7 linked regions of the Homo sapiens genome follow. The protein of the gene in region 3 interacts with the protein of the main gene of each other region in a pairwise test. Each region holds a gene or a part of one and is shown on either strand. Other genes may lie near its edges. The genes, in order: GLIS2, FGFR4, MAP2K3, TERT, ARNT, MAP3K5 and SMAD1.

Region 1 (3,500 bases), on a different chromosome or scaffold from region 3:
GGACCATTTTATGCCCTACTTGCTTGGAGAGTCAGGGCAGAAGGGGAGGACGTGGGAGCTGCCTTCCTGTCCTGCCCTGTGGACAGCATCTCTCCCCACTCACAGGCTATGCTAGCCCCCAGGGAAACACACGGGGGCATATCCAAAGTATTTCACCATGTAGTAGTTATGTCCACCATGGCCGCCCTTTGGTATTGAGTAAAGACCCCAATACCGCGAAAGACGGGATCTCACAGCGTGATTGTGCGGCAGTTAGATTTTCAAGTTGTAATAATCCCAATGAACAAACGCAAGGAAATGTCGTGTTTAACCGCGTAGGAAAAGATTGCTGCTCTGAATGTGAAGTTTGGGTTTAGAATGAAGTGTTGACCTTGTTCTTGGGTCGGTGGATACTGTTAGATCATTTGCATGTGAGGAAAATTACACCAGGTGGGGCGAGGTGGCTCACACCTGTAATCACAGCACTTTGGGAGGCCGAGGTGGGCAGATCACCTGAGGTCAGGAGTTTGAGACCAGCCTGGCCAACATGGTGAAACGCTGTCGCTACTAAAAATAGAAAAATTAGCTGGGTGTGATGGTGTACACCTGTAATCCCAGCTACTTGGGAGGCTGAGGCAGGACAATCGCTTGAACTCGGGAGGCAGAGGTTGCAGTGAGCCCAGATCACACCACTGCACTCCAGCCTGGGTGACTGAGAGACTCCATTTCCAAAAAGAAAATGAAAATTAAACCAGTGAGAAATTCTAAGAAAAATGATGAAAATTACAGCATGGGAAGTGATACTAAAAGAATACCATCTCCAGTAAAAAATAATTTCTACATATTTATATATTAACCGCCAGATACAGCTGGTCAACTCCACCAACCCTGCCCCAGCTGGCCAGGCCAGGCCACAATCCCCAGCTGCCCCCTGGTGGCGACCCAGCGCCCTGGGGCTCCCTGGCTTGCGATGCCTCTCCTCTAGGCCTCTGCAGGGAGGGCGGTGGGGCCCCTGGCTGTGCCCACTTTCTCGGTTTGCCTGGTGCGAGTTCCTTGGTGGTGAGCGTGGCTACCTGCCGGCCATTTCAGAGGATGCTCCTTGCCCCCTGGCCTGGTTCTAGATCTTTGGGGTCAAACAGGGCGGGAGTCCGGAGCATGGCTCCTGCTCTGTCAGAAAAGGCTGTTAGGACACGGCTAGCCAGTTCCCGGGAGATCTGGCTTCAGGCCTTGAATCTTGTTGGGAACAGGCCCCCCAAAATCTGGCTGTAAACTAGCCCCAAAACTGGCCATAAATAAAATCTCTGCAGCGCTGTGACATGTTCATGATGGCCATGACGCCCACGCTGGAAGGTTGTAGGTTTACCAGAATGAGGGCAAGGAACACCTGGCCCACCCAGGGCGGAAAAACTGCTTAAAAGCGTTTGGCTTTTTGTTTGTTTGTTTGTTTTTGAGACGGAGTCTTGCTCTGTCGCCCAGGCTGGAGTGCAGTGGTGCGATCTCGGCTCACTGCAAGCTCTGCGTCCCGGGTTCACACCATTCTCCTGCCTCAGCCTCCCGAGTAGCTGGGACTACAGGCGCCCGCCACCACACCTGGCTAATTTTTTTTTTTGTTATTTAATAGAGTTGGGGTTTCAGCGTGTTAGCCAGGATGGTCTCTATCTCCTGACCTCGTGATCTCCCCGCCTTGGCCTCCCAAAGTGCTGGGATTACAGGTGTGAGTTACTGCGCCCGGCCACAGGCGTTCTTGAACCACAAACAATGGCATGAGTGATCTGTGCCTTAAGGACACGCTCCTGCTGCAGATAACTAGCCAGACCCATCCCTTTATTTCCCATAAGGAATACTTTCAGTTAGTCTATAATCTATAGAAACTATGCTAATGACTGGCTTGCTGTCAATAAATACGTGGGTAAATCTCTGTTCAAGGCTCTCAGCTCTGAAGGCTGTGAGACCCCTGATTTCCCACCCCACACCGCTATATTTCTGCGTATGTGTCTTTAATTCCTCTAGCGCCGCCGGATTAGTCTCCCGACCGAGCTGGTCTTGGCAAATCTGATAGTTTTTCCACTTCTGAGCTCTGCGATCTGAGGCGATGCCTGTAAAAGACGCAGTTTCGCCAAGCGTGGTGGCTCAGGCATGTAGTCCCAGCGTTTTGGGAGGCCAAGGCAGGAGGATCGCTTGAGGCCAGGAGTTCGAGATCAGTTTGGGCAACATGGAGAGACCCGATCTCTACAAAAAAGAAAATTTTTTTTTTTAATTAGCCAGGAGCGGTGCCTGCCTGTAGTCCCAGCTACCAGGGAGGCTGAGGTGGGAGGATCGCTTGAGCCTAGGAGGTCGAGGCTGCAGTGAGCTATGATTGTGCCACTTGCACTCCAGCCTGAGTGACAGAGCGAGACTCTGTCAGCAAATAAAATTCAGTTTCATGGCAAAATGAAGAATGTGAGCTTTGTCTTCCCCAAGAGACTCATGGGAAGCAGATGCGGAATCTCTGAGGAGGCTGTTGGCTCTCCCCCCATGATAGCTGCCGGCCAGGTCGCTCGGAGGGTCTCCCTACCCAGGAGACAACCTCACACTGCCCCCTGCTCCTGCTCCTGTTAGACTGTCATGAGTACAGCCCGAGGAGAAGCCTGGGGTCTCAGTGCCACAGCACAGCTCCTGTCCTTCCCCAGGTTCCTGCGTGAAGACCAGCTGGGAGCCCACTGCCTGCTGCCACCTCCAACTCCGGCCCCCTCACCATGCACTCCCTGGACGAGCCGCTCGACCTGAAGCTGAGTATCACCAAGCTCCGGGCGGCAAGAGAGAAGCGGGAGAGGACGCTGGGTGTGGTCCGGCCCCGTGCTCTGCACAGGGAGCTGGGCCTGGTGGATGACAGCCCCACACCTGGCTCTCCAGGCTCCCCGCCCTCAGGTACTGGCCCTGGGCAGGGCAGGGGGACTTAGCCCTGATCCAGTCATGGTGACAGGGAGAATGGCCAAGTGTGTCCACCAGCATGTAGCTGCAGCCCCTCTCGGCTTCCGGTTCATGGGAAGCCCGCACGCTTGTCCTTCCATCCGCCCAGCATCGTATGTCTGCAGGGAGGTGGGAGCTGCAGTGCCCAGCTCACGTGGCTGGCACACGATGCAAACTGAGGCCTCTAGGCAGATCTGGAACAGAGCTGGTCGGGCAACCAGGCATTCAGAAGGAGCGGCAGTAGTCCCAGGACCTGCACCCTAGGCTGTGGGGTGGTGCCGCTGGCCAACCTGGGCAGTAGAGGCTGGGTCTGAGCCCAGGAGGTGCCTCTCAGGGATTCCCGGTGCTTGGGCCCAGGGTGGTGGGCACCACTTCTGCCCTGCCTCCAAGAGCAGAGTCACCCGAAAACCAGATTCACCGCTTGTCTGAAGGGGAAGGCTATGGGAGCAGCCCAGCCCGAACCTGCCACTTTACAGAAGGGAACACTGAGGCAGGAAGGGGCCTGGGAAAAGCTAGAAAGGTTCCTACCTGCCCGTCTGACAGGGACCCAGGGGCCCTGGGTTCGAGTCCTG
Region 2 (3,500 bases), on a different chromosome or scaffold from region 3:
CCCTAAGCTGGGCTGCAGAGCTGGTGGTGAGCTCCTTACCTGGGTGTGTGTGCGTGTGTGTGTGTGTTCTGTGCACTGGGTGTGTGACCTAGGAGGTCCAGGCAGCATGTGTGGTATAAGCATTATGAGGGTGATATGCCCCGGTGCAGCATGACCCTGTATGTGGCACCAACAGCATGTGCCTTGTGTGTGTGTGTGTCCGTATGTGTGTGTGTGTATGCGTGTGTGTGTGTGTGTGTGTCTTGGCCACTGTCGTGTGCACTAAATGCTGTGTGTGTGACATGCCCCAAGAGTGTGGCATTTGCCCTGGGTGTGGCATCCGCAGCATGTGGCTGTGTGGGTGTCAAGGAGTGGTGGCTCCTTCAGCATGCGTTGCAAAGTGCTTGTGCCCTGCATGTGCGGTGTGTTCTTTGTACACAGGAGGCTGCCTCAGATGGGGCTGCGGGGTCTGCTGACCTCTGCCCTCTGCCCACAGAGCCCTGCCTGGCTCCCAGCCTGGAGCAGCAAGAGCAGGAGCTGACAGTAGCCCTTGGGCAGCCTGTGCGTCTGTGCTGTGGGCGGGCTGAGCGTGGTGGCCACTGGTACAAGGAGGGCAGTCGCCTGGCACCTGCTGGCCGTGTACGGGGCTGGAGGGGCCGCCTAGAGATTGCCAGCTTCCTACCTGAGGATGCTGGCCGCTACCTCTGCCTGGCACGAGGCTCCATGATCGTCCTGCAGAATCTCACCTTGATTACAGGTGGTAAGAGACTCTAGCAGGGAGTGAAGGGATGCCTGGGGAGACAGACCTGCCCCTCTTGGACCTTAGATGCTTCCCTCTGTCCCTGATGTAGACTCCTTGACCTCCAGCAACGATGATGAGGACCCCAAGTCCCATAGGGACCCCTCGAATAGGCACAGTTACCCCCAGCAAGGTCAGTAGGTCTCCAAGGACTTGTGTCCCCGCTGCTGCTCATCTGATCACTGAGAAGAGGAGGCCTGTGTGGGAACACACGGTCATTCTAGGGGCCTTCCCCTGCCCTCCAGCACCCTACTGGACACACCCCCAGCGCATGGAGAAGAAACTGCATGCAGTACCTGCGGGGAACACCGTCAAGTTCCGCTGTCCAGCTGCAGGCAACCCCACGCCCACCATCCGCTGGCTTAAGGATGGACAGGCCTTTCATGGGGAGAACCGCATTGGAGGCATTCGGGTGAGTCTCTGGGTTCCAAGACCGTCTGCTCCCCCATTTTCATTCCTTCATCAGTCCCCTCATACCTACAAGCATACCTATAAATCAATCGAATGAGTGAAGCGATTGCGGGGCCCCGGAAGGAGCCCTGGACTGTGGACCTGGGCAGCTCTGGTTCCCCTTCTGCTACTCTCTGGCAAGTGACTTAACCTCTCAGCCTCAGCAACTCCATTTGTAAAGGGAGAAGAATCACTGACTGGTTGGTCTGCATAAGCCTTAGCATCTCATCGTCTTGATGAGACCCTGCAGGGTCGGCTCCATGCTGTCATGAGGCAACTGAGTCTCAGAGAAGGCAAGGGTTGGCTCAAAGTAGCACAGCTAGGGAGAGGGAGAGCTAAAATTCCAAAGGCTCAAACCCAAGGCTCAAGCGCCCTGGGGAGCCTACTCCTTTGTGCCATAGTCCTTGGCCTGGGCCTGATGTTCTCAGGGCCTAGAGAGCTTGACAAGAGCCCTGTGGGCAGGATGAGGATCTAGCCTCCTGGTCCTCTGGCCCCCTTGGTGGACATGGTCCGGTGGTCCCGGACACTCTCTCTGCCTGCAGCTGCGCCATCAGCACTGGAGTCTCGTGATGGAGAGCGTGGTGCCCTCGGACCGCGGCACATACACCTGCCTGGTAGAGAACGCTGTGGGCAGCATCCGCTATAACTACCTGCTAGATGTGCTGGGTGAGCGCGGGGCTGGGAACAGGGGAGGCCTGACCCATTTTGGGCTCAGTTGTGCCCTCTTGGTGGGGTCTAGTCTGGCAGGCAGGATGGACTCAGATGAGTCAGGCAGCTTGGTGAGCAGGTGGGTCAGGGGAAAGCACAGGGGTTAGTGTGGGGCTGGAGGAGCAGAGGTCTGCCAAGAGGAAAAACAAGAAGGACATCCAGGCAGAGGGCGCAGCCCGAGCGGAGGGCCTGAGTATAACAAACGCCCTGCACTTGCAGGCCAGCATATTCGTAGGGCGTGGCGTTTATATGGGGAGCCAGGTGGTGGAGGGTTTTGAATGCTAGGCTGAGATGTTGTCCTTGACCCGAAGCAATAGGGAGCCAGGGAAGGTTTAAGCAGGGTAAGCAGGAGACAGACAAGAAGCTGCAGAAAGGTCCCTCCCTTGAACTTGAGGAAGGCTGGAGGGAGGCAAACAGGGTGCTTCTATGGGTGCCGGTGGTCAGGGTTGACTGTCTCGCCCGGTCCCCAGAGCGGTCCCCGCACCGGCCCATCCTGCAGGCCGGGCTCCCGGCCAACACCACAGCCGTGGTGGGCAGCGACGTGGAGCTGCTGTGCAAGGTGTACAGCGATGCCCAGCCCCACATCCAGTGGCTGAAGCACATCGTCATCAACGGCAGCAGCTTCGGAGCCGACGGTTTCCCCTATGTGCAAGTCCTAAAGGTAAAAGGTGCACCCTGCTGCAGCCTGGGCCCCATTCTTCTCCCACCTTGGGTTGGGGGGCTCCCCAGCTTCCCTGTTGGCCACAGTGTGGCCCCAGGCCCTGCTGTGACCCCAGAGCATGTCCCCCACCCCAGACTGCAGACATCAATAGCTCAGAGGTGGAGGTCCTGTACCTGCGGAACGTGTCAGCCGAGGACGCAGGCGAGTACACCTGCCTCGCAGGCAATTCCATCGGCCTCTCCTACCAGTCTGCCTGGCTCACGGTGCTGCCAGGTGAGCACCTGAAGGGCCAGGAGATGCTGCGAGATGCCCCTCTGGGCCAGCAGTGGGGGCTGTGGCCTGTTGGGTGGTCAGTCTCTGTTGGCCTGTGGGGTCTGGCCTGGGGGGCAGTGTGTGGATTTGTGGGTTTGAGCTGTATGACAGCCCCTCTGTGCCTCTCCACACGTGGCCGTCCATGTGACCGTCTGCTGAGGTGTGGGTGCCTGGGACTGGGCATAACTACAGCTTCCTCCGTGTGTGTCCCCACATATGTTGGGAGCTGGGAGGGACTGAGTTAGGGTGCACGGGGCGGCCAGTCTCACCACTGACCAGTTTGTCTGTCTGTGTGTGTCCATGTGCGAGGGCAGAGGAGGACCCCACATGGACCGCAGCAGCGCCCGAGGCCAGGTATACGGACATCATCCTGTACGCGTCGGGCTCCCTGGCCTTGGCTGTGCTCCTGCTGCTGGCCGGGCTGTATCGAGGGCAGGCGCTCCACGGCCGGCACCCCCGCCCGCCCGCCACTGTGCAGAAGCTCTCCCGCTTCCCTCTGGCCCGACAGGTACTGGGCGCATCCCCCACCTCACATGTGACAGCCTGACTCCAGCAGGCAGAACCAAGTCTCCCACTTTGCAGTTCTCCCTG
Region 3 (3,500 bases):
CCTCAGGAGTTCACTGGGGAAGAGGGAGCAGGTCCTTGCAGGCAGGGAGCCATCTGCCAGGGTCAGCTGGCATGAGGGTGTCTGTCGGTCAGCAGGGCCGGCTGTTGCCATGGAGCTGGTGCAGGTGCATCCTGAAGCTCTGGTGGAGGGACCCAGCGAGGCTGTGTGCTAATCCTCTTCCTCCCTGGAGACACCTGGAATTAGGGATCAGATAGAGGAGGCTGGCGCCCGAACCTGGCAGTGCAGGCAGAGTTGGAGGGTGGGGGAAGCGGGCAAGTGGGTGGTGGGTGGGAGCCCGGTGAACTGTGGCTGAGTGGGTGGGCACACGTCGGAGAGGGGGCTGGGGCTGGGGCTGGTGCTGGGGCAGGCAGTGCAGGTGGTGCAGACACGGGCAGCCCGGCAGCCTGGCTGAGCTCTGGGTGTCACCCACAGGGAGACGTGTGGATCTGCATGGAGCTCATGGACACATCCTTGGACAAGTTCTACCGGAAGGTGCTGGATAAAAACATGACAATTCCAGAGGACATCCTTGGGGAGATTGCTGTGTCTGTGAGTGGCCTGGGTGGGCTGGCGGGGGGTCCTAGGTGCATAGGCAGAGGCCCAGCCCTGCCAGCAGGCATGGAGCCTGCCTATTGATGGTGTCTTGGGCAGAGCTGGGCATCAATGTGCCCCCTGAACCTGGGCAGCTGCCCTGCATAGGCCCTTCTCCTCCACCCCAGACCAGAGCCTTTGTGCTTAGGAGACCTCCGCTCCTGGGGCTCCTGGAGCCCCACAGATTTGGCAGATCCAGGTGTCTGAGCCATTGATTCCAACTCTTGAGTTCCAGATCATTTTTTAAAAAAGGAATTTAGTATTTACAACAGCGTCATACTAAAAATGCCCCGGGGCAGCTCACAGAGGTACAAGCTAAGTTGGGGGAAAGGTTAGCATCCAAAATGTGTGCTTTTTGAGTCTAAAAAGTCCTTGAGGGAGGGCAGCAACACTGGGCTTGAGCATTCCAGTAGCCAAAGGAAAAAGGAAAATAGAACCAGTGAGACTGGTTCAATCCTCACTGCATCTGGAAACATTTACAATATACCCCTGCCTCAGGCTCCCCACCCAGCCTTCCCAAGGGAAATGGCTCCAAGCTGCTAGAATACTGGCTCTGCCACGGGAGGGGAGATGGGACAGGGAGGCTGCCAAGAGCTGGGTTTTACCCAAGAAGAGTGTGGCAGGCAGTGATGATGCCTCCCTGGGAGGTGAGCCCGGGAGGATGAGAGGAGGCAGGAGGCCGAGTGTGTCTGCACCAGGATTGTTAGGATGCTGGGGCAAATGCCAGGACAGGGCAGGAGGCTGGGATGAGAGGGTGCGTAGCCTGTGCAGCGGGAGCGGGAGACAGGTGGACATGGATGGGGTCTTACTGCTCTGTCGTTTTTGACGTGACCAGGAATAACAGAGTCCTGTCTCTTCCCTCCTCCCCACCCCACCGCCAGATCGTGCGGGCCCTGGAGCATCTGCACAGCAAGCTGTCGGTGATCCACAGAGGTCAGTGCCCGGCAGCCACCCAGGCACGGTGTAGCCAGTGGGAGGGATCCCAGGCCAAGGCGGGTGGACGTCTCCCTATGAGCAACTGTGGCTCCGAGAGGTGATAGGTTGTGACGTGCCCGATGGGGTTCCAGCCGCTTTCCACCTGCAGCCCTGCAGCTGCCTCCCCTCAGGTTTGCTGGTGCTCGAAGCAAGGACTGGCTTGACTTCTGTCCTGAGAAAGGTGGACTGGGTTCTGTTCTGATGTATAGTTTACAAATCGTGAAACTCCAGCATAGAGTGCATATAATCATGTTCACACCCATGCAACCACCTCCCTCCAAGATGCAGGACAATTCTCTCACCCCCTCCCAGAATGTTCTCTTGGGCTCCTTCCCTGCCATCCCCCATGTGCCTAAGGCACCCACAAGTCTGGTTTTCCCACAGTGGGTTGGTTTCGCCCTTTCTGGAACATCAGCCTCGCTTGATGTTTCTGGACCCACCTGGGTCTGGTGTGGTCTCAGTTTGTTCCTTTTTGCTGCTGAGCACAAGTCTATTTTTCCAGATTTACTGCTTTTCAAAAAATGAATTAGGCTTAGTTCCCATTGTCCACTGGGTGCCCATCCCAGCCCCCCAGGTCACTGTGGTTGGCGGTTGGCACGGAACCTTCTGGTCCTTTTTATGTGCATTTCCATCTTTACACACATCCCCATGGAGGGCACGGGGATGTGAGTGTCCTATGCGCATTTGTATGGAGAATCCCTGCTGGGCTGCTCTCCCATGCTGGTCTGTGGGGACTCCATGTCCAAACACGCAGATCCTGCCTCCCAGGCTTTAATTGATCCTGCTGCCCTCTGGGAGCACCCACACAAGCCAGGCTCTCACTGGACCTCATGTCTGGAGGGCGGATGCAGGCACGGTGCTCCCAGCAAAGCACCTGGAGTCCTGCCTTCCTTGCAGTGGCCGGGCCGGGCTGGGCACGTCCTGGCTGTTCCCTGAGGACCAAGTATGACTCTCAGCTGGCCCGGCACCTCTTGCAGCCTCAGTTCCCTGGTCTGACCCTTGGGACCCTGGTGCAACCTGCCCACTGGGGCATGGGAGGGGGCACAGGAGGGGTCTTGGGCGAGGGAGGGGGGCACAGCTATGCAGAGCATGGCACCTGCCTCCAGTCGTGCTCCACAGACGTGGCTGAGGCATGTCCCTCCCTGGCAGATGTGAAGCCCTCCAATGTCCTTATCAACAAGGAGGGCCATGTGAAGATGTGTGACTTTGGCATCAGTGGCTACTTGGTGGACTCTGTGGCCAAGACGATGGATGCCGGCTGCAAGCCCTACATGGCCGTGAGTGGTCCCCAAGCCCCCCAGGCTCAGGAGAGGATGGGGCGGGGAGAAATCTGCCCAGGCTGGCCACCCCGGCCATACCCTCTGTCCGTAGGGGCAGAGCCTCCCCACACTGCGTTTCCTGCTGTAGTGGGGCCACCTGTGTCTTGCTGCCCAGGGGCAGCCCTTCTGTACCCCGTTGTTAACTGACCCCCACAGTGCCCCAGTTGGGTGATAAGCTCATGGACCACCTCTGCGGAGGACACTGGTGGGCTGTGCAGGTCCCGCCCCGCCCTCATTGTCAGGAGGGCCTTAGGGGCCTGCTCCCGGGTAGGGTCAGACCGATGCAAGGGTTGGGCCTTCTAAGCATGACCCAGGCCCTCCTAGCCTCAGTTTCCTCCCCCGTCACATGGGCAGGTGGGCTAAGCTGAGCGCTCAGTTTGGGGATTGGGAGGCAAGGCCTAGCCATGGGGGCTTACCTGGGGCGGGTGTTCACGCCTCACTCTTCCCTCCTGCAGCCTGAGAGGATCAACCCAGAGCTGAACCAGAAGGGCTACAATGTCAAGTCCGACGTCTGGAGCCTGGGCATCACCATGGTACTGTGGGGGGCCAGGGCCTGCCCTTGGTGGTCAGGTGGGGTGGGTGGAGCCGTGCCTGGGGCCCTGAGCTTTTGGGGGA
Region 4 (3,500 bases), on a different chromosome or scaffold from region 3:
CCCCTGACCTGCACCATCCAGACACCACACATCCAGCTCACAGCAGGGCCTGGCGACCTCACCCCGGACCTGCATCATCCGGACTCCATACCTCCAGCTCACCGAGGGCCTGGAGACCTCACCCCTGACCTGCACCATCCAGACACCACACATCCAGCTCACAGCAGGGCCTGGCGACCTCATCCCAGACGTGCACCATCCGGACACTGCACATCCAGCTCACTGAGGGCCTGGCGACCTCATCCCGGACCTGCACCATCTGGTACAACAGCCATGGCCATGGGAAGCCCAGCAGGTCCAGGCCGAGATGGCCACGCACGGGACCTACACACGGGATCCCGCAGACAAAGCTCAAAAAATGTCAAATGTCCTGTGAGTGATGCTCCCACCAATAACACCCTAAAATGATGAGGTGTGGACATGCTGGGCTTCAGTAAAATCTATTATTACATTAATTTCACCTTTTCTTTTTTACTTTTTTAATGTGGCTACTAGAATTTTTTTTTTTTTTTTTTTTTTTGAGACAGAGTCTCGCTGTGTTGCCAGGCTGGAGTGCAGTGGTGCAATGTCGGCTCACTGCAACTTCCAACTCCCAGGTTCAAGCAATTCTCCTGCCTCAGCCTCCCGAGTAGCTGGGATTACAGGCACCCGCCACCACGCCCAGCTAATTTTTGTGTTTTTAGTACAGATGGGGTTTCATCATGTTGGCCAGGATGGTCTCGACCTCCTGACCTCGTGATCCACCCGCCTTGGCCTCCCAAAGTGCTGGGATTACAGGCGTGAGCCACCGCGCCCAGCCTAGAAATTTTAAAATTATCCACATGGCTCACGTCATGCTCCTGTTGGGCGACAACGGCTCGGAGCCTCATCCTTTGTCCTGGTTCCCAAGCAGAAGGGAGGAAGCAGACACTCCCCCGCCAGGCAGCACCGTCAGAGCTGGCGCCACACCGCAGGTTTGCGCGATTTCAAACTCGACACCGCGGAGCCACCAGACCCCGACATGCCTGGGGTTTTCCAGGCTGAACCCAGGCCGAGCGGACGTTGCTGTCACTCACTGGCTAAGGAACGCTGGCCACGTGGTGCTCCAGACACTCACGGGCCAAGATGACCGCCCTCCTCGTGAGTCTCCACATCTTCATCTGTGCATCATAAGCAGAGGTCCCCGGACGTCGCTAGATGCCATGGAGGCCAGCACAGGTAAAGCTGGGGTTTACCAGCAATAACAAGACAGAAGAACCACGCAAAGGACAAGGAAGGGGACCCCAGACGGCGGGCCTGAGACAGAAGACAGACGGGGAACAAAGGAGGAAAAGCAGGGCGGGGGCAAAGCTACAGAAACACTCAACACGGAAAACAATATTAATAATGCTTAGCTTGTGGGGGTGTCAAGATGCCTGAGATAGAACTAAGTCAGCAGGGAAAACAGCACACAGGCTGGGGGGTGGCCAGAGCTAAAATACACTAAGGGTCTTATTGCTCAGGACAAGGGTAGCAATGTTTCAGACTTCATTTTAAAAGATCAAGGTATGCCGGGCACGGTGGCTTGCACCTGTAATCCCAGCACTGTGGGAGGCCAAGGCGGGCAGATCACTTGAGGTCAGGAGTTTGAGACCAGCCTGGCCAACATGGTGAAAGCCTATCTCTACTAAAAATACAAAAATTAGCCAGGCGTGGTGGTGGGCGCCTGTAATCCCAGCTACTCATGAGGTTGAGGAATGAGAACTGCTTGAACCGAGGAGGCAGAGGTTGCAGTGAGCCGAGATTGTGCCATTACACTCCAGCCTGGGTGACAGAGTGAGACTGTCTCAATAAACAAAAGCAAACAACGACAATAAAAAGATCAGGGGGTAACACTAAGCAAAGAGAAATAAAAGCAAATGCCCAGTGACCAGGAGGCAACGAGAGGATCAACACACACTCGGCAGGAAACGCACATGGCAACCCAAGAGGTGGTGAGAAACAAGGGAACGAGGACATGCAACAGGCAAGTGGAGAATCAGAGTGCACCAGGCGGGTCTCTAGTGACAAAAAAATGAAAATAAATCAGGTTATCCAGTTAAACAACGACTGTCAGACTGGATTGGAAATTCACCTACATGCTGTTAACAGGACATACCCACACTATAAGAATATAAAAGTGTTGAAAATTAGGCCAGACATGGTGGCTCATGCCTGTAATTCAGCACTTTGGGAAGCCGAGGTAGATGGATCCCTTGAGTCCAAGAGTTTGAGACCAGCCTGGGCAACACAGCAAGACCCTGTCTCCAGAAAAAATTTAAAAATTAGCCAGGTGTAGCGGTGCGTGTCTGCAGTTCCAGCTATTCAGGAGGCTGAGGTGAGAGGACGGCTCAGGCCAGAAGGTAAAAGTTACACTGACCTGTGATCACACCACTGCACTCACCCTGGGCGACAGACCAAGACTCTGTCTCAAAAAAAAAAAATATATATATATATATATAAATTAAAGGCAGAAAACAGACACAGCAGGAAAATACTAATCAAAAGAAGCCCAGTGTGGCAGTACTAAGAGCAATTTAAAAAAAGAATTACTAGATTACTAGAGACATAGAAGTCTCCAAAAGATTCACTCATCAGGAAGATAAAAATTCTACCACGTGCATGCACCTAACAATGCCTCACATAAATGCTACCAAACGAGAAGAAATGAACAGACCCATCCCCCAGGTGAGGGACTATGGCCTCCTTCTTGGAATTTCATGCATCTAGAAGGAGACAGAAGCTTTGCACTGGACCTTAATAAGCTGGATATAGTGAACATGCATGCCCACTATTGACAGGATGTCAAATTTACAATGGACAGTTCTGGAAACCATGCACACACTAGATCACAAAGCAAGGCTCCGCAAACTTCAAATAATTGGTATTATACAGACCACTACACAACTGAGTTAGAAATCAATAATAAAATGATAACTTAAAATACTCTACGTATCTTGATACTCTACATATCTTGAACATAAACAGTGTTCAAATAACTCACTGCTCAAAGAAATCACAGAATAAGCTAAAGAATACTTAAAAGTCACTGATATCAAAATGATTTCACGTCAAAACACAGCGTGCACAAAGAAAAAAATCACAGAATAAGAATACTTAAAAGAAGTATTAACACTTTGAAGTATTTTAAGAACACTTGAAAGTGGCTGATGTTGAGATTACTTCACATCAAAACACAGGGTGCAGGTAAGGCAGCACTTAGAGGGAAAGGCATGACTAAACTAAGAAGCTAGAAAAGGAATGAAAGAATAAACCAAGAAAAAGCATACAATGGAGAGATAGAAACGTCAGAGGTAAATCAGTGAAATTCAAAACTAAGACCCAAGAGGGAAGTCTGACGAAGGCTGGCGGAGACACCGGCCCTCCACGTGGGTCTCAGAGCAGGAGACAGACAGAGACACTCCAACCTGTGGCTGGACGTCAATCCATGTGAGGGGGCGACTGGAGGCAGAGCCCAGCCTAAGCAATGAGCGGCAGGTGCC
Region 5 (3,500 bases), on a different chromosome or scaffold from region 3:
TTAATTGTGCTGGTGGCCCTGCAGTGTTTTTCAAGGGGACCACGTTCTTCTGCATTTTTCACTGTGGTGCTGCATTAGAAGAAGAGTAAAATATGGTTGGTACTCTCTAAGAGTTGTGTTGAAGTAATAGTTCTGTGATGATTTTTTTTCTCGAATTGATAATTCTTCATATTCTATCATTTTTCACTAGTTCTACTTATCACTGGCAAGTAGAACTCGGTGGGTAGGTGGTCCATGAAACTTTAGGCTGTTTCTTATCTATGGACTAGACAAGTTTTGTTTTGTTTTTTTTTTGTTTGTTTGTTTGTTTTGAGACAGAGTCTCACTCTGTCGCCCAGGCTGGAGTGCAGTGGTGCTATCTTGGCTCACTGCAAGCTCCGCCTCCCAGGTTCACGCCATTCTCCTGCCTCAGCCTCCCGAGTAGCTGGGACTACAGGTACCCGCCACCACGCCCGGCTAATTTTTTTTTTTGTATTTTTAGTAGAGACAGGGTTTCACCCTGTTAGCCAGGGTGGTCTCGATCTCCTGACCTTGTGATCCGCCTGCCTCGGCCTCCCAAAGTGCTGGGATTACAGGCTTGAGTCACCGTGCCCGGCCCGGACTAGACAAGTTTTGAGGAACACATTTTTTTTCCCCATAGGAGAGGGTCTTGCTCTGTCACTGAGGCTGGAGTGCAGTGACACAATCATGGCTCACTGCAGCCTTGACCTTCTGGGAGCATGTGATCCTCCCACTTCAGCCTCCTGAGTAGGTGGGACCACAGGTGTGCACCACCGTGGCTGGCTAATTTTAAATTTTTTTTAGAGACAGGGTCTTGCTATGTTGCCCAGGCTGGTCTTTAACTCCTGGCCTCAAGTGATCTTCCTGCGTTGGGCACTCCCCAAGAGCTGGGATTATAGGCATGACCACCATGCCCAGCCAAGGTGGAACACTTTTTAAATTGAATGTGTCATTTGTAATGCATTGGCTGAGGGAACAGTTGGGAGGAGATTAGGTATTTGATTTACAATTCCAAATTCAAACTAGAGATGTTGAATGAGTTTGTAGTAAGTGTAGGTTTTTATCTCTCTTGATTCTGGTATTCTCATTAGCAGAGAATTCTTTTTGTGCTATTATGTACAAGTTACTGTGGATGAAGAATGTAGAAGGAAAAGGGTAATACCGTTTGGGTTTGTAAGGCTGTCATTTAGGAAGAAAATTTTTTTTAGCTAATTTTCACCTATATAACTTAGTTTTAACTGCGTCAATTAACACAATTCTTACCTGTTACCTTTATTTACCTTTTTCAGATATGGGAAAATAGGAATTCATGCAATGTAAAGTTAAGATGTCAAGATATTCTTTTATGGCCAGGTGTGGTGGCTCGTGCCTCTAATCCCTTTGGGAGGCCGAGGCAGGCCGATTGCTTGAGCCCAGGAATTTGAGACCAGCCCGGACAACGTGACGAAACCCCTTTACTACAAAAAATACAAAAAATTTTCCGGGCACTGTGGTGCACTTCTATAGTCCCAGCTACTTGGGAGGCTGAGATGGGAGTATCACCTGAGCCTGGAAAGTTGAAGCTGCAGTGAGCTGTGATCATGCCACTGTACTCCAGCCTGGGTGTTGGAGTGAGACCCTGTCCCCCAACAAAAAAAGAGATAGTATTTTATTATATTGCAAAGGCCTTTTTTTTTTTTTTTTTTTTTTTTTGAGACAGGGTCTTACTGTGTCGCCCAGGCTGGAGTGCAATGGCGTGATCTTGGCTCACTGCAACCTCCGCCTCCTGGGTTCAAGCTATTCTCCCGCCTCAGCCTCCCGAGTAGCTGGGATTACAGGCACCTGCCATCACGCCGGCTAATTTTTTATTTTTAATAGAGACAGGGTTTCTCCATGTTGGCCAGGCTGGTCTTGAACTCCTCACCTCAGGTGATCCGCCCACCTTGGCCTCCCAAAGTGCTGGGATTACAGGCGTGAGCCGCCATGCTCCGCCGCCATCTGTTTTTAAGAATGCTGCCTTGGCCGGGCATGGTGGCTCATGCCTGTAATCCTAGCATTTTGGGAGGCCGAAGTGGGCAGATCACCTGAGGTCAGGAGTTCAAGACCAGCCTGGCCAACATGGAGAAACCCTGTCTCTACTAAAAATACAAAAATTAGCCAGGCATGGTGGCAGGTGCCTGTAATCCCAGCTACTCGGGAGGCTGAGGCGGGAGAATCGCTTGAACCTGGAAGGTGGTGGTTGCAGTGAGCTGAGATCGTACCACTGCACTCTAGCCTGGGCGACAGAGTGAGACTCCGTCTAAAAAAAAAAAAAAAAAAAAAAAAACCACGACTGCCTAATATGCCATAATGACTTTAGTAAGTAGACATCAGTGAATCTTCAGGTTGGAAATATGACAACACCTATCATTTTACACTTAAGGAGACAAACCCAGGGAAAGGAGTGGATAATTAAGTTCCTTCTATATGCCAGGCTGCACTTTCCTATTTTGTTGCTAATCTTTATGTCTAGTCTGTAGCAACTGTCTCCAACTTTTCACATAAACTCTTCAAATTTATGTCACTTTTCATAATTTCGTCAATGTATTTTCTTGTTTTAAAGTTTTTATTATTTTAGATAGTGACCGGGTCTCACTATATTGCCCCGGCTGGTCTCAAACTCCTGGGCTCAAGCAATCCTCCTGCCTCGGCCTCCCAGAGTGCCGGGGTTACAGGTGTGAGCCACCCTCTGAGGCCCATTTTATATTTTCCCTCCACGTTTTCATTGTAGTTGAATGGACAAGTAAGTTTATGGATTCAACAGTATACTTAGGGCTGGACATGGTGGCTCATACCTGTAATCCTAGCACTTTGGGAGGCTGATGTAGGTGGATTGCTTGAGCCCAAAAGTTTGAGACCAGCCTGGGCAACGTGGTGAAACCCCATCTGTACAAAAAAATACAAAAAATTAGCAGGGTGTGGTAGCATTCCCTGTAGTCCCAGCTACGTGGGAGACTGAGATGCGAGGATGACCTGAGCCTGGGAGGTTGAGGCTGCAGTGAGCCATGATTGTGCCACTGCATTCCTGTCTGGGTGACTAGGAGACAGAGTGAGACCCTGTCTCAAAAAACACAACAAAACCAGCATACTTAGGATATAAGTTCCATGAGAGCAGAACTTTTGCTTTCCTTGTTTACCAGAGCATTGCAGTGCTTACAGTGGGTGCCTAGTATGTTGGATTAGAGTTCAATGTATGTTTGTGGAATAAAAATGAATGTAAAACCCACTGTTAATATGAAATACCTTTGAAGGGATAAAACTAATTAAGCCATTGACATCATGAATTTGTACTAACTATAATAATATCTAATATTTATTAGTAATACTTACCAGCTGTTCTCATTTAATTTTTATAACAATCGTATTAGGTAAGTATTATTATTCTTGTTTTACAGATGAGGAAACTAAGGCACAGAGAGTGAATAAGTAACTTGTCTGAAGTCACATAGCTACTAGAAGTTAGAGACAGAATTTTATTGTTG
Region 6 (3,500 bases), on a different chromosome or scaffold from region 3:
CCTGGGTGACAGAGCAAGACCCTATCTCAAAAACAAAAACAAAAACCTGTCTCAAGAGGAGCTGCCTGTTTATTTAATTTCCCCATCCTACAGTTCTGGAATTACCCACCAATCCACCTCATCACCCCTGCCCATCCAAGGTTAAAAATTGACCTCATGGCAGATCCTGCCATACTTTTTTGGAACAGAAAGGCAGACAGTTGCCTTGATTTCAAAATATTGCCCTGCTAAATAAACACAAAATAAAAATAAAATTGATGTACTGGATTGTTCTTAAGATAAATACTTCTAAGAGCTGGATTCGGAGCAAATGAGGTGGGCTGTCAATACTCTGCTTCCAGTGTTGAAGTTCTGGTGTTTAAGGTGTTAAAAGAAAGCTTCAGACAAATTAAATTTAATGGAGTTTAATTGAAAAAGAAAAAAATAGTTTGTGAATCAGGTGGCCTCTAGAATCACAGCAGATTCAGAGAGATTCCAGGGATGCCTCGTGGCCAGAACAAATTTATAGAAAATAAAAGTAAAGTGACGTACAGAAATCAGAAGTGTGCAGAAAGAGCTGGATTTGTTATGGGTTGGCGTTCACCTTATTTGAACACTCAGCAGTGTATGAGTGGTTGAAGTATGGCTCCTGGGATTAGCCAAGACTCAGCTATTGTTATAGACGCATACTCCTAAGTTAGGTTTTCAATCTTGTCTACCTGTTAAGTTATAGTTTGTCCACGAGGACTCAAATATGCAAGTACGGAGTCCTTCTCAGGCCATATTTCATTCACTTTAACAAAAGATAAAAAGAAATTACATAGTCTAGACAAACATAGGTTAAACTCTAGAAAACATCACTGTGTTCCTTGAGAAAACAGTAAGAAGATACCATCACTGTCTTATACGTATAAATTAGCAAGTAGGACAAAAATACATACCAGATCAAAAAACTGCCAACTTAAACATTCACACAGAGCTTCCTGCCCATTTCTTTGGATAATATTTGTTTTGAAAGAGATAAGAAGCCTCCCTCCAAGACCCTGTGCTCCCTCTTCTAGCTTTCAGTTCATGCTGCTTCATCCACCTCATTGTGCACCACACTTACCCTGCAGCTGTCTTTGTTAACTTATTTTCCTCCACCCACCTTCTCTGTCTACCTCTTATTGTGTTTTACTTTTGTCCCACCTCTGCTACCTACTCTGCTGTGATCCCTTCTCTCTGAGGATCTCATCTTTATGTCCTGTGGGAATGGGGTCGAGCCTGGGGGTCTGGGAAGGTTTCCTTCCCACTGAGTCCTGGAAAGGCTCTTTTCCAGGGACTGAGGTAGCAAGGAACAGAACATCCCTTATTAAAGACCAGACACTGACTTGGCACTGTACCTATGCTGTCTCATTTAATGCTCACAATAATCTTTTCTGGAAGCTTTAGTTTTCTTTTTTACAAATGATTTGAAAACTGAAGCCTGGAGGCATTAGGTAATTTATCTAAGGTTAACACAGGAAGTGCAGGGTTGAACCAGGACACAAGCCCAGATCTGTCAGTTGCACGATGCTGCCTTCAGATTATGTCAAGTGAAGCAGAAACAAACTCTTGAGTTAAATCTATCAATACTCAGAAAATGAAACAAATAGAGTTTGTTAAGAGCTGTAGTTTATGCAACGATTTATCCTGATAATCTTAATAACGATATATTTTAAATTATTATTTCTGAATCCAACTTACATTAAGATACTTTTCTAAAAAATTAGAGCACCTCTTTTCATAACTTGGAATGTTTTCTTTGAGAAATTCTATTGGAAATGGTGAGTAGGTTACCAGTTGGCTCTCAGTTGCATAGTGAACCTTCTATGGGTAAGAACTTTGGTATGAATATCACAGTTTCTCCTTGTTTCTTTGGAGACTGCATCAGATGCCAACTAGGAACTGAATGTACCAGGAACACAGCTATCCTTTTACCCACTTCACCCCCGCCCCCTTAGAAGGAAGAGGAATAATAGTAACAATCACAATTGTAGCAACAACCGTGAACATTTACTGAGAATTTGTTATATGCCAGATATTCTAGGCGACCTCACCTATGACTGTTTCTCAAATTTTCATAGTTTACAAAAAGTGATTACTTTTCTGATTTGCATTGATTATGAAATTATGCACATTTGCCAACTTTTTTTAATGGGGGTCCATACATGTAAAATATAGGCCTGTTAATATCTGTATCCCATATTTATATCTTTGACATTTATGGTCATAACAAGAAATATCAGGACACATCTCTGAAGATTTTGGCAGACAATCTGTGGTGGAGGTTTTGAATTCTTGTCGGCAAGCACAGTCTTCCAAAGCTTAGCTTCTGGACCTGAGGGTCTGTGAACCTGCAACATCAGTGTCATCTGGGAGCTCATTATAAATACAGTCTCAGAACTCACCCCCGGGGCACTGGACCAGTATCTGTATTTCAATAAAATTAGGGGTGTATGTGCTTATTATAGCTCATGTCTAGAAGGTCATCCTAGGCCTGGCACAGTGGCACATGCACACACCTATAATCCCAGAGCTTTGAGAGGCTGAGGTGGAAAGACCACTGGAGGCCAGGAGTTCAGAGACCAGCTTGGACAACATAGCAAGACTCTGTCTCTACAAAAAAAAAAAAAAAAAAAATTAGCCAGGCATGGTGGTGCATGTCTGTATTCCCAGCTGCTTGGAAAACTGAGATGGGAGGATCGCTTGAGTCCAAGAGTTTAAGGATGCAGTGAGCTATAATTGGGCCACTACACTCAGCCTAGGCAACAGAGAGAGACCTTGTATCTAAAAAAATAAAAATAAAAAAAAGAAGGTCACCCTGTGTCACCTCCTGTCAAACAATATATTTTTCTTCTGCAGATTACTGGAAGAATTGGTTCGGAAAGAGAAAGAATTACAAGCACTCCTTCATCGAGCTATTGAAGAAAAAGACCAAGAAATTAAACACCTGAAGCTTAAGTCCCAACCCATAGGTGAATAGCAGAAAGTTTTATAGTAATACTGTTCAGCCAGGCTGCCACAAAAAGCCAAGAAAGCCAACAGGAAGTTTTATTTGTGGCTAAGTCAGCATTTCTCACTTCTACCATGACTGCAAGCAGGAATTCCTTTAAAAAAAAAAAATCCAGTTTTTAACTGTAGCAAACTCATTTCTTATAAGTGCAGTAAAAATAGATTATTCATAATCATCTTTTCCTGAGATTATGTATTACTGAGGTAAACAGGGCTCTCTGTTTTTAGTCTTTATTTTTAAAGATTTCACAATGAGCTTACTAGAATAAATAATACTATTTTTTGTCATTTTGCATTTATATTCTGTGTATTCTAGCCTTTTTCCTTATAATTTGAAGAGGCTTAAATAGAATAAAGATGTAGTAGTAAAAAGGCATAGCTGGGGAGAATGTTATTTAGCCCATTTAGAGGAAAACAGAATTCATAGTTATTTGTTTAGATATGTGGCTCTTTCATAGTGGAAAAAGAGATTATGATAATTATATAGT
Region 7 (3,500 bases), on a different chromosome or scaffold from region 3:
GGTGGATCACCTGAGGTCAGGAGTTCAAGACCAGCCTGCCTAACATGGTGAAACCCTGTCTCTACTGCAGATGCAAAAATTAGCTGGGTGTGGTGGCGGGCCCCTGTTGTCCGAGCTACTTGGGAGGCTGAGGCAGGAGAATCACTTGAACCCAGGAGGCAGAGGTTGCAGTGAACTGAGATCACACCATTGCACTCCAGCCTGGGCAACAAGAGCAAAACTCAGTCTCAAAAAAAAAAAAGAAAAAAAAAATTGGTGATAAACTCAAAGGACCTTTCTTGGATGTGCAGTGTCATAAATTGGAATGTACACCACTTTAATCATTATGATTTTTTAAATCTTTTTTATTGCCTCTGTATTTTATGGTTCCTGATTATCTCTTGAACATCTTATCAAACATAATTCTGAGTCAATGAACACTCTGGTTGGGGGAAATAACCCCTATCTCACACATCTGTGGAATTTATATTTGGGGACCAGGATACCAGGAGAGAATAGGCACAGTACCACACTATTAGGAGCATGTGGACCCAGTAACTATTATTACTAAACCCAAAATGTCTGATTTCAGGAAACAGATCTTTAAATTGCTTTAAGATTTTTTTCATTTAAATAGCTTTAATTTTTTTTTCCTTTATAGTTTATAGTCAGTTAATATTTTCACGAGGAAGGAATGTTGGCCATTTTTTTTCTTCCCCCCGCTTTTTTTTTAACTTGTTTTTAACCTTTGGTGATTTTCCTAGAGCAGGGGTGAACAAACTACAGCCCACAGGCCAATTCAGCCTGCTATCTGTTTTTGTAAATAAAGCATTATTGGACCACAGCTGTATTCATTCATTACATATTGTCTATGACTGCTTCTGTGTTACAAGGGCAGAATTGGATAGTTGTGATAAAGATTATACAGCCCATAAAATCTTGCTGGCCTTTCACAGAAAAAATTCATCAACCTCTGACCTAGATGAATAGTATTTTGAAGTATCCTGATAGCTGATAAAAGCCTTCTGCTAATAATGTTGCAGTCTGCTTTAAGATTTGGCACTTGTAAATCACTAAAGTTTTGCTCTTTGAATTATAGCAAATTGATGTGGTAGAGTTGCTTAGCAAGCAGGGAAGATAGTGTATGTTTTTAGCTAACTACTTACATATGTAAAGCGACTAACTTATGTGTGGGTTTTTTCATGAGTATTTTCCTTGTTTTTTTTTTGTGTGTGTGTGTGTGTGTGTTTGTTATTGTTGTTTTGTTTTTTACCAAATTCTAAAGTAAAGTGCATTTTAGTATTTGTGGAATTTGATGTTAAGAACACAGAGGTGCTTCTCCCTTAGCAGTTGTAGTCTGGGCTTCTGATGTGGACTTTCTTTCTTTTCCTCCTTTTATTATTGTACACCCAAGACTTCATAAACCTCAGATCATTATATATTGGTATGCTGGAAATATATGGTTTGTATTCCTGGAATCTCTAAAGGAGTGGTACAAGAGGTTTTACTACAGAAGGAATTCATCTTTAAAACCTTTTAGTTGCAAATGTTTAGAACCATGTTCTGTTTGGAGATTTGTTAGTCTTAAGAGATTTGACTTAACAAGCTGCATCCTGTCAGTAAAGTTGGGTAATTTCCATTGTTGGCCCATTCTGGGAATGGAGAGACAAAACACACCTGCTCTGCATGACTTAAAGCAAATATAAGGAAGTTAGCATGAAATCTGGATGAGAAAGATATGATTCATTCTGTAAGAATGGCCAGCTGGCAAGATTTCTTCCTGAGTTTGAGAACTGGAGCAACACTGTAGCTGTGATAGTTATTGGCAACTTAATATGAGGTAAAGTAACTTCTTATCAATAATTAGAAACTGATTTTCATGGCTTTGAATAAGCATAGGCATACTTAGTCTTTGCCAAAAGTAATTCATTTTTATGCCAGTACCTTTGGCATATTTTCAGTCTTCTATTGTTCTCTTCCCACTTATTTTTTCACTTGTCACTTGTGTTTCTTTAGATGGTGAGCCAAAGTCTGTGGTAGGGGTGATTTCCATTTCTGCATATTACAGAGCAATTAGCATATTGTTAATATTCAGCAAAAGTTTTTGCTGTGCTTCCTTAGCTGGTGTTTTGGTTATCTGATAGTAATTGGAGAAAATTGTTCTCCAATTTTCTCCAATTAGGAGAATAAGGAGAGTGTCATATTAAGAAGTACCTGCTTTAAACATCATAGAAAAACTGTATACATTATAATAGCAATTGCTTTTCCAGTGTCTTCATTCCATGATCCTGAGCCAATTCAACAACACGGTTTCAGTTTTTGAGAGCCTGAGGCACTAACCTTGGTTGATATAACATTTTCTTTCCTCTAGATGTTCAGGCGGTTGCTTATGAGGAACCAAAACACTGGTGCTCTATTGTCTACTATGAGCTCAACAATCGTGTGGGTGAAGCGTTCCATGCCTCCTCCACAAGTGTGTTGGTGGATGGTTTCACTGATCCTTCCAACAATAAGAACCGTTTCTGCCTTGGGCTGCTCTCCAATGTTAACCGGAATTCCACTATTGAAAACACCAGGCGGCATATTGGAAAAGGTGAGTTTTTGCTTTAACCTCTTTCAGATGTTTATCTGTTGTGTCCCTGTTCCTCCAGAGCTGACTTAAAATCATTCCTGTAACAAACTGTTGTAGCAAAGACCAGGTAATGTTCACTTGCTGCAGTTTGTAAATATTTTTCCAGTTTCTGCTATCTGGAAGCTCTTGCAGTCAGTGATTTTTGTGGTCGATCAACTCATAATATTGAAATTAATTAGTTGAAATTATGATTTGCCATTTTAAGACACTATTCTGTATGATATTTTGCTGCAGAATAAATTGGCTGTTATAAAATGAATCACAACCTAAAATTAAAAGCAAATTACAGTTAATTGCTTAATTGTATTTCAAATGAATACCATAACTCAGTAAATAGAAAAGAAAGAACTAGATTTTAGCACAAACATCGTGCAAGGTGGCACGATAGAACCCTGCAGTGATTGTACCCCCACAGGGACACCAAATTGAACAACTGTCCATATAAGACAGCACCTTCAAAAGAACAAAAAATCAGGCATGGATATATTTATAATAAGAAAAAATAAAGACCAAAAAACAAGCCTAGTAAGTTATGAATATAGTAAGTGACTATATATCCTCAGCCTAGGCTGAGTGGAGTAGATAGAGTAGGGGTAGGATTTCAAATAAATCCCGAACTCTTTTTAGTAAACTTGATTATTTCATAGCAGTATGAGTGAAACCATTCTGAAACTTTCATATGTAAAGATGAAGCAAATGACTAAATGTGTGGATATTGTTGGGAGCTTGGGTTTCCACTGTGGAAAACAGACATATAAATGCGGAGGGGAGCAAAAAGTAAACCCTGTGAAGGAGAATAGAAGTATCAGTGCAAAATTCTGATTTTAGTAATACATATGTGTATGTATGTATGCATGTTTATGTTCTCATGTATTACGTATGTGTGTAT

Evidence for each region.
Region 1: the proteins of MAP2K3 (region 3) and GLIS2 come close enough for resonance energy transfer, tested with the Homo sapiens proteins (one large-scale study listed by BioGRID).
Region 2: the proteins of MAP2K3 (region 3) and FGFR4 come close enough for resonance energy transfer, tested with the Homo sapiens proteins (2 studies listed by BioGRID).
Region 4: the proteins of MAP2K3 (region 3) and TERT come close enough for resonance energy transfer, tested with the Homo sapiens proteins (one large-scale study listed by BioGRID).
Region 5: the proteins of MAP2K3 (region 3) and ARNT come close enough for resonance energy transfer, tested with the Homo sapiens proteins (2 studies listed by BioGRID).
Region 6: the proteins of MAP2K3 (region 3) and MAP3K5 interact in binary tests that used the Homo sapiens proteins (3 or more experiments, as listed by UniProt).
Region 7: the proteins of MAP2K3 (region 3) and SMAD1 come close enough for resonance energy transfer, tested with the Homo sapiens proteins (one large-scale study listed by BioGRID).

Annotation. Positions count from the first base shown.
Region 1 is NC_000016.10:4,329,567-4,333,066, forward strand, and holds part of GLIS2 (zinc finger protein GLIS2), read left to right. Parts: intron 1-2,648; 5' UTR 2,649-2,714; coding exon 2,715-2,886; intron 2,887-3,500. UniProt on the Homo sapiens protein: Can act either as a transcriptional repressor or as a transcriptional activator, depending on the cell context. Acts as a repressor of the Hedgehog signaling pathway. Represses the Hedgehog-dependent expression of Wnt4.
Region 2 is NC_000005.10:177,089,915-177,093,414, forward strand, and holds part of FGFR4 (fibroblast growth factor receptor 4 isoform 1 precursor), read left to right. Parts: intron 1-475; coding exon 476-739; intron 740-830; coding exon 831-911; intron 912-1,023; coding exon 1,024-1,190; intron 1,191-1,770; coding exon 1,771-1,894; intron 1,895-2,406; coding exon 2,407-2,597; intron 2,598-2,731; coding exon 2,732-2,870; intron 2,871-3,223; coding exon 3,224-3,417; coding exon of another isoform or gene 3,418-3,491; coding exon 3,492-3,500. UniProt on the Homo sapiens protein: Tyrosine-protein kinase that acts as a cell-surface receptor for fibroblast growth factors and plays a role in the regulation of cell proliferation, differentiation and migration, and in regulation of lipid metabolism, bile acid biosynthesis, glucose uptake, vitamin D metabolism and phosphate homeostasis.
Region 3 is NC_000017.11:21,301,711-21,305,210, forward strand, and holds part of MAP2K3 (dual specificity mitogen-activated protein kinase kinase 3), read left to right. Parts: intron 1-432; coding exon 433-549; intron 550-1,472; coding exon 1,473-1,524; intron 1,525-2,715; coding exon 2,716-2,843; intron 2,844-3,340; coding exon 3,341-3,418; intron 3,419-3,500. UniProt on the Homo sapiens protein: Dual specificity kinase. Is activated by cytokines and environmental stress in vivo. Catalyzes the concomitant phosphorylation of a threonine and a tyrosine residue in the MAP kinase p38.
Region 4 is NC_000005.10:1,285,069-1,288,568, forward strand, and holds part of TERT (telomerase reverse transcriptase), read right to left. Parts: intron 1-3,500. UniProt on the Homo sapiens protein: Telomerase is a ribonucleoprotein enzyme essential for the replication of chromosome termini in most eukaryotes. Active in progenitor and cancer cells. Inactive, or very low activity, in normal somatic cells.
Region 5 is NC_000001.11:150,870,100-150,873,599, reverse strand, and holds part of ARNT (aryl hydrocarbon receptor nuclear translocator), read left to right. Parts: intron 1-3,500. UniProt on the Homo sapiens protein: Required for activity of the AHR. Upon ligand binding, AHR translocates into the nucleus, where it heterodimerizes with ARNT and induces transcription by binding to xenobiotic response elements (XRE).
Region 6 is NC_000006.12:136,561,978-136,565,477, reverse strand, and holds part of MAP3K5 (mitogen-activated protein kinase kinase kinase 5), read left to right. Parts: intron 1-2,862; coding exon 2,863-2,975; intron 2,976-3,500. UniProt on the Homo sapiens protein: Serine/threonine kinase which acts as an essential component of the MAP kinase signal transduction pathway. Plays an important role in the cascades of cellular responses evoked by changes in the environment.
Region 7 is NC_000004.12:145,544,353-145,547,852, forward strand, and holds part of SMAD1 (mothers against decapentaplegic homolog 1), read left to right. Parts: intron 1-2,350; coding exon 2,351-2,572; intron 2,573-3,500. UniProt on the Homo sapiens protein: Transcriptional modulator that plays a role in various cellular processes, including embryonic development, cell differentiation, and tissue homeostasis.